2 separate regions of the Homo sapiens genome follow, and region 1 is linked to region 2. The links come from fine-mapping of genetic effects on gene expression. A gene starts in region 2. The other region holds a variant in brackets. All regions are shown on one strand. Distances are from middle to middle.

The links.
Region 1: its variant is fine-mapped to the expression of ELF1 in whole blood (INTERVAL, PIP 0.99).

The regions. Positions count from the first base shown.
Region 1 is chr13:40,981,299-40,984,220 of GRCh38, reverse strand. It overlaps ELF1 (E74 like ETS transcription factor 1), which reads left to right. Exons shown (of 9, transcript NM_172373.4): 2 at 1,939-2,238. The coding sequence starts at 2,167. Among named protein-coding and RNA genes, the nearest start is that of ELF1, 37 kb to the left of the region's middle. The variant AG/G (reference allele first, on the strand shown) is at 1,266.
Region 2 is chr13:41,017,550-41,020,471 of GRCh38, reverse strand. ELF1 (E74 like ETS transcription factor 1) reads left to right here and starts at 1,156. Exons shown (of 9, transcript NM_172373.4): 1 at 1,156-1,244. RefSeq lists an enhancer at 1,162-1,271.

The sequences.
Region 1 (2,922 bases), 36 kb after region 2:
ACACAGGTTTGGGAGGTACAGAAGAAATTTTAGACAATGGTTATTTCCCCAGAAGAGGTTTTGCTTCAGTTGTCTTGGTGCCTGGCACATTGCCTTGCAAATAATTGGTACTCAAACATGTATTCAGTTGAATTAAGGGGACACAGTTTTCAAATGTAAGACAATGTACTACAATTCATGCTAAATTGGTTGTACGGGCAGTAATTGCTGTGTTTTTGAAGGGAGCAGTCCTTGTAGTTTGAGGCATAGATGTTGGGAGGCTTTGTGAAATAAATGGGGCTTGAGCATTGAATGGAAAAGATGGGATTGAATGCTGGCAAGTAGAAGATGGGTGTGTTGCAGGCATAGGAAATAACAGAAGTTGAGAAAAGAGGCAAGACTGAATAGTTTGTGTGGAGGAACATAAGGCAGGTCTACTACAGAGGAATTGGGTTGGATAATAATTTAAGGAAAAAGGTATTATAAATAATAATAAGTACAAGGCCAAATGTATCTATCTGTGATCAATTTAAATCAAAACACTTTTTTTTTCCCTCTTCTAGATATGGTACATTGCTCAAAAACCACCTGAATGTGCTAAAAATACTTTCCCAGTGTTGGAGTTAAACTTCCTGTTAAAAGGGAGTGGATGAGAGTGGGAAATTTGCTGGGTTGGAATTTAGTGTAGTGAGTAGAAATATCATCTGAATTGGATTCTTAATTCTTATTTTATTTTGAGTTCTTGCTAGGAAAATCACAGTCATCCATGATGACCCCTAAAGCCCAGGACACATAGGGACTTGGCTTTACAGAAATTAGGAAACCGATTAAGTGATTTGGCTGACACATACTAGCTGGATTTACGTTTTCAGGGAAACTGATTCACTAGATCAGCTTCATCCCCAGACTTGTCTCTTTAAAATTATTAGGAAATTACTGGCCATCCTTTCCTTGGAGTCAACTTCTTTTTTAAAGTGTTTGTAATAAAACTGTAAATGCTAATTCAAAGAACTAATGTTATTTAATGTGATTATTTTTGTATCTTTCTTTTCAGGCCATAATCATTTGATGAAAATGTAGTAAGATTGTGATAAACACCTAAAGAATTTTTTCCTTTTGTTAGTATTGATAACTTTTTTTTTAAATAGGCAAACATCTTTGGCAGACATTTTAAAAGCCTTTGTCCCTTCGCTGTGAAATTGTTTTCACTACTAAGTTGCGTTTCTGTTTTTCTACTATTGTAAAGTGCAGTTCTTTGCATGTTCTAATTTGCCATGACGTGGTCA[AG/G]TGCTGTTTCCTTCCTGTTGCTTGCAAGCCTATACTAGAGATAAGGATACATTTCAGTGCATTAAAAAAGAAGCCACTGAAGACAGGCTTAAGCATGGTAATTTTTAAAACATTTTACTTATCAGAAGCCTTTTTAAAGAACAGAAAGAGTGGGCTTTAATTTCTGCTTATTTTTAAAAGATTTAAAAATACTTCTTACTAAACTTTAAATGTATTTGATTTTAAATCCTTATATAAATCCTCTTAAAGGTGAAAATATATACGTTGTGAAATTACTCATTGGGTAGCAGTTTCTATGTATGTGCTTTGCTGAGTTGGTGAAAAGAAGGAAATTGTTTATATATCCTTTATTGCGATTACAACCCTCATTATTGCTGGGGTTTTTTGACCTTTTTTTTTTTTTTAATATTGAGTACTTTTAACAGTAGTTTAACTGGAGAGTGGGGGAGAGAGGCATAATTTTCAGTAGTGACAGATGATCTTAGCAGGAGCAAACTGTTCAAATAAAATATGTAACTTTTAAAAAAGAGCGTATGTGCATTAGTCGTGTCGATTTTATTTAAAAACGTTAATAATAAAAAAATGCTTTAGCGATACTGCCCTCTGTATCAGTTATTATATCCTAAGTGGGTGATTGCTTTTTCATAACTAATCTGAGCTTTTGTTTTTTAGGCCAAGAAGCTTGAGAGAAGAAAAATTTCAGAAAAATTGTCTCAATTTGACTAGAATATCAATGAACCAGGAAAACTGAAGCACCTTCCCTAAAGAAAACTTGGGTATACAATTACTCCACAGACAGAGCTGAGGGTTTTTTACCCAAATCAGTCACTGGATTTTGCTGCCTGATACGTGAATCTTCTTGGAATTTTTCTCATGTGGATCTAAGGGGAATGCTTTATTATGGCTGCTGTTGTCCAACAGAACGACCTAGTATTTGAATTTGCTAGTAACGTCATGGAGGATGAACGACAGGTATGAGATTCAGAGAAAATTTCATTTTAATGACTTTATTATGATTTTTCTATTCATATCAGAAAATTATTTCCTTTAAAAGACAATGAGAGAAACTTTATTGAAAGTAAAAATTTATAGATGAAATATTTGGAGGAAATATTATACTATGTTTTAAGCACCAGTTAATTCATGAAGAATAAGTCTTATCCTTAGCTTTGATATGGTAACAAGGAAGTAATACCTTTGGGATTCAGCTTGTTTTTTTGTAAAATGAGACTTAACACTAAATGCCTTAAGTAATTATTTTTAAGTACTTTGAAAAGTTCTAGAGAATATACTGCCTTTTAATGTATGTGGTTAATTAATGTTTGTAATCATGGGCTACTTCTTCAAGTAGATGAGACAACGTTAGCGGTCCCATAATCATACATCATTTCAGTCCAAAGCATGTGACTCTGAGGAAGTTACTTAACTTCTCTAGATCTAGATTTCATCATCTGCAGAATGAGGGGATTGAACTGAAGAATTTCTAAATCGGCTTTCAGTGAATTTATATAAGATGTGCAAATTACTGTTTTCAGTACATAAAAAAGATCTAGGAGATACTGAGTAAAGGATCTAAGATTAATTTTAGTCTCCTTCCCCCCTCCCCACAACACACACACACACAAAAGAACTGGAACGAGGCTAGAGTTTCTTGGG
Region 2 (2,922 bases):
CAACTATGCCTCTGGTAAGCCAGAATAAACTCCCAACTAATTAACTAAAGGGAGAAAACCTTGCTAAATCCTATTTACTTTTTGTAAGATACCAGGACGAAGGCTATCTATTGAGTTGCATTTATCATTTCAAGCGCTTTGGAAGTACTTAGTGCTTTCAAGCCATTTTGATTAATTTAAGCTCTTAGAATAAATTAATAAGTATTCACCCAGAGGCCAGAATAAGTAGGTGTAGTAATATTTCAGTGGCTTGGGCACTTTGTCAGATGTATTCTGACTTGGAAGGCAGAGCTTCACTGGCCACAGTTGTCCCCTTAGGTTGGCCTTGCCACAATTGCAGTGGAGCTGTAGCAGGGTGCCTGGCACAAGAGGCTTGAAATACATGTAGAAAATTTTGCTTGAAAGGTAAGTCAAACTGTAGCTATCATTTGGAAGTAGTAGAGTTATGAACTATGATCGTACCAATACTTTTTTAAAAGGGTTTTATCAAGCTTGCAGTTTATTTAAAATCATTTTGCTTTGTTGGACTTTAAATTCCTAACATTGGAGTGTGGGTTTTTAAAAATTCTGTAAACCAGTTTAATTCACACTTATTTTTCCACTGAACTTTGAATTTTCTAGTGGATTTTATCTGTTTAGTGAACTTACAGATCTGCATCTGGCTTTGTAGTTTGCTAGCCTTTCCAGACTACATAGCAATATATCTCTTTCATATGAGGGTTAATGAGTAGCCAGATTACACTCACCAGTCCATTGTTACATTAAGAGCCACAGAGTTTGCTATCTCCCTTCCATCCCCTTTCATACTTTTTTCCTTTCACAGTTTTATTTGATATAGTAAAGCAACTTTTAAAAATTGAGATTTTTATATTTTAAAACAATATATAGTTTTTAATTTTGCTCCCTTGTAGGTTCTTACTCTATTTTATTGTTAGTTTTAAATTATGGCAATTAATATGAGCTTAGTAATGGTCTAATCAAGGTAGATCTTGCTCCTTGCCTCTTCATCCCCACTTTCCTATACCGTTTTTACCTGCAGATTTGCATGTTTGACCTAGCAGAATAATTGGGTCCACAGCAACATGGGCGTGCCTCCCTTAGAAACACTTGGTTTCATGTATGACTCATAAGCTGAAGCACAGACACCACTTCCCCAATCTACAGGAGCCATTTTAACAGCTAAAACTTGTCGGATTGCTTTTTATTTTCAAGCTCAAAAGACGATAGAGAAAGAATACTTGAAGGTAACTTGTTACAATTTTGTATGTTTGCTTCTGGCTTTTTCTTGAGCTGATAAACAGAGGGTGGTTCTTACCTGTTGAAGAACATGGCTGAATGTGTTCTTTAACCCTCTGATAAAATGTGTGTGGTCAGTCACATGCCTGATTGAACTTAATTGCTAGGGGGAAACAAAGCACTGAAATTCTGGAAAGTTTTAGATCTTCTTGCTAAAGCATTTTGTATGTCTTTGTGATTTTTTTTCTATGTAATTTAAGAATAAAAGAGGTTTTTTGTTTGTTTATTTGTTTTTAAGTACCACAAAGCAAACTAAGGTCAAATTTTAATTTAAAAAACCTAATTGTATTTTTTGGGGTAGTTGAAGTTACAGTTAAGTAAACCGTATTATTCCTGTGTGATATAGATGTTAAATATCCAGGGGCAGTGGCTTTGTTTTGGCATTTTAGCTAAGGGTGAAGTTTTGGGACAACTCAGCCATAGGTGTTGCTCATTGACTGTTATTTATTTATTTTTTTCTCCCTCTCTGTTTTTTAAAGTTAATGAAATTATATTAAATGTTTCATTTTGGAAACCCAATGGAAATTTAAATGAATTGTTATTTAGATAATAAGTAAAAATGAATATTAGATTATTTAGATAACAAGTAAAAGTGAATATTAAATAGAGGAAGAAAGACTAGAATGATTCATTTACTATTAGAAAAAAATGAAGTTTTATAATTCACACTGAAAACTTGTTCTGAGTAACAACCTTAGAAGTAAAGCTGTCTTCTAAGGAAACGTAGTTATTTCAATTTTGTGTAAAAAGAAAAAGTGATGAGTATTGGCCTTCCTTTTGTATTACTGTTCTTAAAATTTGCCTGCCTTGAATTAAAAACCTTCTGTAAATGAAAAGATTGCTCAGTCTTTTCCTGAAGTACTTGTCATTGTAGTTATGAGATTTTGGCTGGCAAGTATACATCCTACTGTGCCTTAAAGTTCTAGGTGCTCTGTAAAGATGAGTGCAGTAGTATTTTATTTCTGAAACATATTTATGAAGATAAAATTGGAATATGCAGTGATTCCAAAAAATAAAGTTTTTGGATATAAAACTTGCCAAATCATTTCTTGTTGACCAAAATGATATTTAGCTAGTTCTTTGAGAATTTGCTATGCACTTACTAAGTGCTTGAAGGCCTGTCAGATTAAAGGGAAGAGACAAAGGCAATCAGTTATTATTTCTTACTCTTTTGTAAGGATTGTTGATATTAACAGATCTCAATTTTGCGGTCTTACAAGAAAGACACAGCGGACATTTTACCAATTCAGCTGAGCCATTTGCTATCATCTTTGTTTGCATATTGCTGGTTTAGTCAGCCTTTGAGTAAGCAAAAGCTGTATTTACTTCTAGTCTGGTCTGTGTGAAAAATCTAATGAAGACTTTTCTATTTTTTTTTTTAACTTTTTTAAGGTGGTGATCCATAAGAGAAAAATCAAGAGGCACACAAATAAGCGGCATAATTAAGATCTTATTTATTAAAGAGAAGTAGAGGAATTTGGTTTCTTAAATTTAAGAAGCTGGTACAGTTAAAGTAGTATAGATATTGTTTATGTATTTTCTTACGTGATAGAGACTGAAGTGGAGTTTCAAGGAGAAGGGAGAAGGGGGGGTAAAAAGAAGAGAACCAAGAAAAGACCAGAACAA